2 linked regions of the Homo sapiens genome follow. The protein of the gene in region 1 interacts with the protein of each later gene in a biochemical or structural test. Each region holds a gene or a part of one and is shown in the gene's direction. Other genes may lie near its edges.

What was found. The genes of interacting proteins can lie anywhere in the genome.
Region 2: of the proteins of VIP (region 1) and MEP1A, one has a biochemical effect on the other in vitro, tested with the Homo sapiens proteins (one study listed by BioGRID).

Annotation. Positions count from the first base shown.
Region 1 is NC_000006.12:152,749,170-152,752,921, forward strand, and holds the start of VIP (VIP peptides isoform 1 preproprotein), read left to right. Parts: upstream 1-1,627; 5' UTR 1,628-1,790; intron 1,791-2,998; 5' UTR 2,999-3,008; coding exon 3,009-3,115; intron 3,116-3,752. UniProt on the Homo sapiens protein: PHM-27 and PHV-42 are two bioactive forms from proteolysis of the same precursor protein, that cause vasodilation. PHM-27 is a potent agonist of the calcitonin receptor CALCR, with similar efficacy as calcitonin.
Region 2 is NC_000006.12:46,791,066-46,794,817, forward strand, and holds the start of MEP1A (meprin A subunit alpha precursor), read left to right. Parts: upstream 1-2,323; 5' UTR 2,324-2,333; coding exon 2,334-2,402; coding exon of another isoform or gene 2,403-2,486; coding exon 2,487-2,511; intron 2,512-2,600; coding exon 2,601-2,651; intron 2,652-3,752.

The DNA of each region.
Region 1 (3,752 bases):
TTATAATAGAAGCAATTGTCTTTTGTATTGGGAAAAGCTACTATAGTTACTCTTTGTAAATGCTAAGTGCTTGCCTAGGCCAAATAATGATCAGCTTTACATCTTTTATGTTTAAAATTTTTCTTCTTATCATTCAGCAGTCATTTGTCTGTGACCCTCAATTAAGTTGCTTTGCTGTTTCTGCTCTTAAATAAAATTGGTTCACTAAGAATTGGGTGATGAAGAGCTAAGGATAAAAAAATTCCATATGAGAACTGTTTCAACCTCTAGTTTGTAATAATCAGGTAAAAAAGATTTCCTGGAATTAAGCCACAGGAACTCTGGCTTAAGTCAGAGCTGTCAACTGGGAAACAAATTTCCAGACATTTTGAAACTTAATTCATTTAATTTTTCTGGTAACTGGATTAGAAAATATGATTAAGCATAGCAGGATATTCTTTTACTGGATCAGTCTGACTTTGAACGAAGGAAATAGATACTACAATCTTAAAGTAGAAGAAAGAGGACTGTAAAGCCATTCTGTCTTATGAAACTTAGAAACAAAATGTAAAAATAATACACATGGCAGAAAGCCTTTAAAATAAAAGGAAAAATGGCATTTTCCTCTGTTGTTTAGGAAATTTTTCATGTGGCTGCATTTTTACCTTAAACTCTGATTGAATGTGTGCTAGACTACCTTTAGTTACAAATCCACAAATAGAAGTGAAGTATTTATCAAAGTACTATATAAATGCTTTTCAACTATTTGAAGCCACCTGTCAAGTGATTGAATCAGAAATGTTCAAAACTGGTTTGAGTATGTGTGTGTGTTGGGGATGAGGGTAGAAAACTAATTCTACATTATGCAAAGACTTATAAAAGTGATGAGGAAAATCTTTAAAAAGAAAAGACAATTAAATTCCTTGAGGTATATAGCCTGACAACAATTTATTTTTTGGATCATTTGACACAGTGTATGTAAAAGTGCATTGGGAATTGTGCCATTTTATACAAATATGAAATAGCACTACTTGTACTGCTTTGTACAACAGCGTGCATATCTTACTATCTTAGAGACTTTCTGAAACACTTATCTTGGAATTAGTTTCAACAAAGACGAAATGTAATAATAGGAAGGTGAAAATTATCTCTAGAGCTTTTAAAGTTAGGATAGATTTCAAGAAAGATTAAATCTGGAACTATATGAATAGCATAAAAATTAAAAATATTAAGAGAATTGATACTTTGTAATAAAGTATAATTATACTTTTATAAGCGTAATGAACATAAGTGTTTGTTGCTTTATGCATTTGTTTCTACACATGAAGTCTTTATTTTCTGAAGGAATCCCAATGGCCCTGGCTATAACACTACAATCATTTTCTTATTTTACAATTAATTAAAGGTTAAAACATTTCACATTGAGCTTGCTACTTTGTTTGTTTAAAGAAAAGTAAATTTCCTCTTATCTTACATTTTGAAGTTGCTCACTATAAACTTATATAAATTAGGCATAATGACAATTAAGTAAGAACTTCAAGCCCTATTCATCCCATGGCCGTCATACTGTGACGTCTTTCAGAGCACTTTGTGATTGCTCAGTCCTAAGTATAAGCCCTATAAAATGATGGGCTTTGAAATGCTGGTCAGGGTAGAGTGAGAAGCACCAGCAGGCAGTAACAGCCAACCCTTAGCCATTGCTAAGGGCAGAGAACTGGTGGAGCCTTTCTCTTACTCCCAGGACTTCAGCACCTAAGACAGCTCCAAAACAAACCAGAACAGTCAGCTCCGGGGGAGCACGACTGGGCGAGGTAAGTGAAAACTTTACCTTTCCTCTTCTTTTTCCCTCCTGCCTCTGGAACTTTTCTCACAAAATAATGAATTTTTCTCTCTTGAAAAGAATTTGATAGTGCTTTGCTTTTGCAACAGCAAAAAACAAGTTTCTCAAGTCACCTGGTAAGGATAGAAATACTTCAATTTCTCTCATATGGATAGATTTTCTGAATTCTTTTGTTTGTAAGATGCTTTACCCTGCTTGCTCTTTTACTGAATACTGATTTTTACAAATAATTCATTCAAGTAAAGTTTACTTGTATGTAGATTTTTGACTGAAAATTTCAGTGGGAACATTTGCTTTTGAAATTTTCAACTTATTTTTAAAGTGCTTTTTTTTTCCTATTTCGTATGTTGGTTAAGTGAATCTAAGATGCATTTATTTTTTCCTTAAGTTTAAATTCCATAATTTTTATAGGCAGCAAGAGAAACAGACCTTACTCCTAGGCTTTTAATCTAGAAACTAGAAATGAAATGTGTAAGTTGATTAAATGCAAGAAATGCAAGCTTTGCTTTTAATATATATTTTCCTCTTATGGAAAAATTTATTTCAATGACAACATATGATTCAGTAATATTTTGAGTATTAATATTCACTACTGAGTTAAGAAGTTCAAATCCAGGTGTAAGGAAATAAGTTTCCGTAATATCTACAATTGAAAGAGGAAAAAGTAATGTATATACAAAATCTTTTTTAAAATTATATGTATATATACACATTATATTTATACATTTGCACACACACGAGCAGAATAATTATTAAATAGATGATACTCTAGTCTTATATTAGTCAGATACTGAAATTTTAAAGCAGAAGAAAATCAATGTCTTGAAGCTGTTTCCTTCGTCAAAAAATACACTAAGCTTGAGTGGTACATCCCTGTTATGAAAAGATTGTCCCCAGGGTTATTTCCAGCACTATAGAAGTATGGCATTCAATAGATACTGGGGCCAACCATGTGCCCAGACAGCAGGTGAAAAGGATTCTAATTTTTATTCAAGCACCTGTCACTGAGAGAAATACTGATTTTTGAATGTATCATCTTGCAATTTAACTCTTTCTACAAGATGAAAATTACTCTTTACAAACTCTGCAAGAGCCATTGAAAATTACTGCTAGACAATCAGAATTACCTTGCTGGTGACATCTTTGGCTGGAAGAACTGAGGTGATTCTCTCTCTTTAGAGGCACAGAAATGGACACCAGAAATAAGGCCCAGCTCCTTGTGCTCCTGACTCTTCTCAGTGTGCTCTTCTCACAGACTTCGGCATGGCCTCTTTACAGGGCACCTTCTGCTCTCAGGTAAGTTCCCTTTCAATTCAAACATCTGAACATTCCTTCCTCATCTAAATGGGAATTTCCTATACATTTTGTTGGACAACTAAATAGTATAAATTATGTATTATGTATTTAAATTTTTCCTTGATGTGTTGAGTGAGAGGTGTTTGTCAACATCAGGTCATTCTGAGTCCTGGAATTCACTTTCAGGGCATGAGAGACACTGTCAGTTATTAGTTTTATGGGCTGAGTGGATCACATTCCCAAACATGGTGAAAGGAGGCTTTCACTTTCTTTTTATTCAAAACCATCTTTAGATAAATAATAAGCTTTTATCCATTGTTATCTCAAGTCAGTTCAATTTCTGGTGGAAAAAAGCTGTTTAGTTGCCAACCACATTTGAGTTTATTTTCAAGATTAATCAGTAAATAATCATAAGACTAGTAGTTGATTAGTGAAACATGTATAAAATCATGTTGCACAGAAATCTATCTAGGCAGAGTCAATTTGCCAATATTAAATATGGGGTAATTGATCTATTGAGATACACTCCCCCAATAGGAAAATTTTGATATACTTTGTTTGGACCATAAATCCTTAGTTTTATTGTTCTATATGTTATATTATATATTCCAAATCCATAAAGTATAACACAACTCTT
Region 2 (3,752 bases), about 110 Mb from region 1:
AAATAAAAGTCTCATATGTTTTCCACACTGATACTTAAAGCCAATTATTCTTACGATGTTGGCCAGTTTTAAAATTTGATTATTGCCCAATTTTTAAATGGTCTAGATTGTAGTTGCTCACTTAAGTCATTGCGGCTGTTGGGCAAATTTGGCTTTTTGTTTTGTTTTGTTTCGTTTAAAAAATAATATTAGTGGTTTGTAATGGTTAGAGACGGTGGAAGATGGCCTTTTATCACCTCACCATCAGTGGCTTAGGTAAAACAAAAATCAGCCATAGAACGCTTCTGCCCATCAGAAGCAGGCCCCCAGTTGACATGCCTCCTATTTTACAGCTCAAGAAGCTCTACTGTTCACCTTCTAAAAGTCTTTTGTGACAGGAAATGCTTTTTTGACAGCAGGACTAGCCCACCTGCCCAGTAGTAAGTCTGAGGTAGAGAGATGCAGGCTCTAGACCTTGAAGATTGCTCTAATGCCAAAGATTCTTATATCTGGTGCAGGCAAGAATAGGTGGGTGTGTGCATATATTTAGTATTGTGCTGGCGCAGATGGAGCCCACTGTGTACATCTCTTCCCAACACTGCATTCAGTGACATGGTGTTGGTAGCTTGAAATTGACCATGGCAATCAACAAACACTACAAATAAAGGCTTGGTTTTGTTTGTTTGCTTGTTTGTTTTTACTTTTTTTAAAAGAGCCGATTATTAAACATTTACCTGTGCATGGCTGAATATATTCCATAATTTATCTTTTCTTTTAGTATAAACACATTTTCCCCATTCTTTACCATAACAAAAAAACTTCAATGAATATGCTATGTGGAATTTTGTGCACATATGTGTGAGTTCCTTTAGCATATAGACCTAGAAGTGAAGTTTCTATCTTATGAACTGTGCACATTTCAACTTCATTAGATAGCATCAAATTGATGTCCTACTAGATTTCCTATTTTCTTACCTTCTTGTTGACACTTGATATTGTCAGTCTTCTTAATTTATGCCAATCTTAGCTTGAGGTGGTATTTTACTGCTATTTGAACCTATAATTTTTCTGATTACTTACGAGGCTAAAAATCTTTTTACATATTTATTGGCCATCTGGGTCTTTTGTGAATTTGCTACTCATATTTTTTGTTCATTTTTTCCTTAGATAATCTCCTGTTCTTTTTATTGATTTGTAGAAATTCTTTACATATCCTGAATACTTATTCTTATTCAATTATATGCAGTATACATATCATCTCTCACCTGTGGCTTGTCTTTTAATCATGTTATGTTTTTGTCATAAAGAAGTTTAAATTTTGATACAGTCAAATGTATTATTCTTTTCCTCTGTAATTTCTATGTTTTTTTCATGTTTAAGCAATCTTTCTTGACCTAAAGGTTAAAAATATGTTCCTATATTTTCTTTTTTGAAGTTTATATTTTCATATTTAAATTTTTAATCTATCTAGAATTTATTTTTGTCAATGGTATCAGGTGTACATTTAATGTATTTCCTCATATGGAAATGCAATTATTCCCACATTATTATGAAAGAGACCCAAGTTTCCCTCTTGCCTTTTTGGTTCCTCTTATACATAAAAGCCCTGCATATGCTTGCATCTATTTGGATATTACCTATTCCAGTCTATAGATTCATTTTATCTTTATTTTTGGAACTATTACACTCTAATTACTGTAACTTTACCAAAGCTCCTGATATTCTTTTGAGGCAATTCTTTTCTCTTTATTCAGCCTTTTCAGAATTTTCTTATCTATTCTTCAATGTTTACTCTTTCATGCGAATTGAACCATTTGTCAGCTTGGCAAGTTCCACTGAAAACCCTGTTAGATTTTTTACTAGAATGACAATGAATTTATAGATTAATATTAAAACAATCTATTAATATTTCATACATATGTACATATAGAGAGAGAGTCAGGTATTTTTATGTCCTTCAATAATTGCTTTATAACATTTCCATAAAATTTGAATTTATATTTTATTAGAATTAAATAATAATAATTTTATAAATTATTTTTATTTTTATTGTTAAGGGGATCGTCTATCCTGTTTTATGATATGAATGGCTATGGCTGCCCTATAGGAATGTTATTAGTTCTTATATGCTCATTTCCGTATTAATTTTTCAAACTTTTCCCCAGTCTTTGGAGCTTAAGCATTTAAGGTAAACTTAGTGTTTGTCCTCGAAAGAGTCAATGATGTTATCTTTGACAACCTTTATTGGCACTACGGTACATATGGAAGGGTCAAAGTTTCTAATACGACCGTCAGGGTAAAGTCTAAACGGTATTTATGACAAGGTGTGTGCTAAAATCAGCTCACTTGCAGCAATGGCTTGGATTAGATCCACTTGCATTCTCTTTTTTACCTTGCTTTTTGCCCACATAGCAGCTGTACCGGTAAGTCGAGTCCTGCTTTTTGGATATTTAGAAATATTAATTCTAGTATACATTATCCATTTTCTGTATATTTATTTTTTTCAGATTAAGTATCTTCCTGAAGAAAATGGTAAGAATTAGTTCAAATGCACAGAGAGTGTTTTTGAACTTTTTTCCTTCGGCAAGACTAATAATAATTTTTTTTCTCACTTTTAACAGTACATGATGCAGATTTTGGTGAACAGAAGGATATTTCAGAAATCAATTTAGGTGAGTTCAATTTTTGTGTTATTAAAGTCTTGAAATTACTTGAAACCCAGTGGTGGGATTACTGAACACTTTCCTTCCTAATACTGTATTGTGATTCTCTGGGGGAGAAATATTTTTTGGTGCTTTGTGAGAAATTGCATTTTCTGAAAGATAAAAATGCGGAAAGAGAAGATAGTTAGACCAGACTTTCTAGGAGAGCTAGGAAGTCCTCAATGGATCTAGAAATATGTAACAAGTTTCTCTTTATAAAAATTTTATTTTTCCAATTTGTATTTGGAGGAAAAGGAAAGCAAATAGATAATTATTCCGATTGTTAAAGAAAAATATAAGAATAAGCCTCTGGTTATATTTAGTGGGGAAACAAAACCCAACCCCTCCACTGGCCCATCATATTCACTAACAACTCCTCGGTTGAGACTTAGGGGTGAGTGTAAAGCAATCTCCACTTAGACATCTCATTTACAAATATATTTCTTGAAGAAATTCATCAGTCTCATCCATTACTGAGAGGAGAGAGAAGCTGAGTCATCATCTCTGTTTTCTCTCTGTTGTCCTGCTTCTGAAATGAGAGAGAAGCCTCTGCATTCCCAGTGTCTTAGGTCAGGATTTGTGGAAGCAGAGCTATTCATGATAATAAGTACCTTCAGTTTACAAAAGCTTTTATATGCAATTGCATATTTATTTGTCCAGTCTTGTCGTGGAGTAAGTGCTGTTTTCATTTTTTTGGGAAGCGACAGGTGGCTTCTCATGGGTAGAGTGACTTGCTCAAGATCATAGGTAGCAGTGATGGGGCTTACTTCCAGATCTTGTAGCCCATACCTTAATAGCTCAGTGCTATCTGAAGGCTACAAAACTAACATACCAATAACTAAGGGTCAATTTTTCTGGCTTTGTCTCACTCACAGAGAAGCCAGTTAGTTGATATTTAATTGGAATAGCTGGAGAATGGCTGCATAGGCAGAGCAGAAATAGTTTAGGAAGGTAAATGGGTGAATGCATAAATGGGTCCCAAGACTTCAGAGCCAGGCACTAAAATATCTCTCTTTAGAGTTAGCCATTGTGTAAACAGTTCAGAGAATCTGCTGTATTTTACAACAGAAA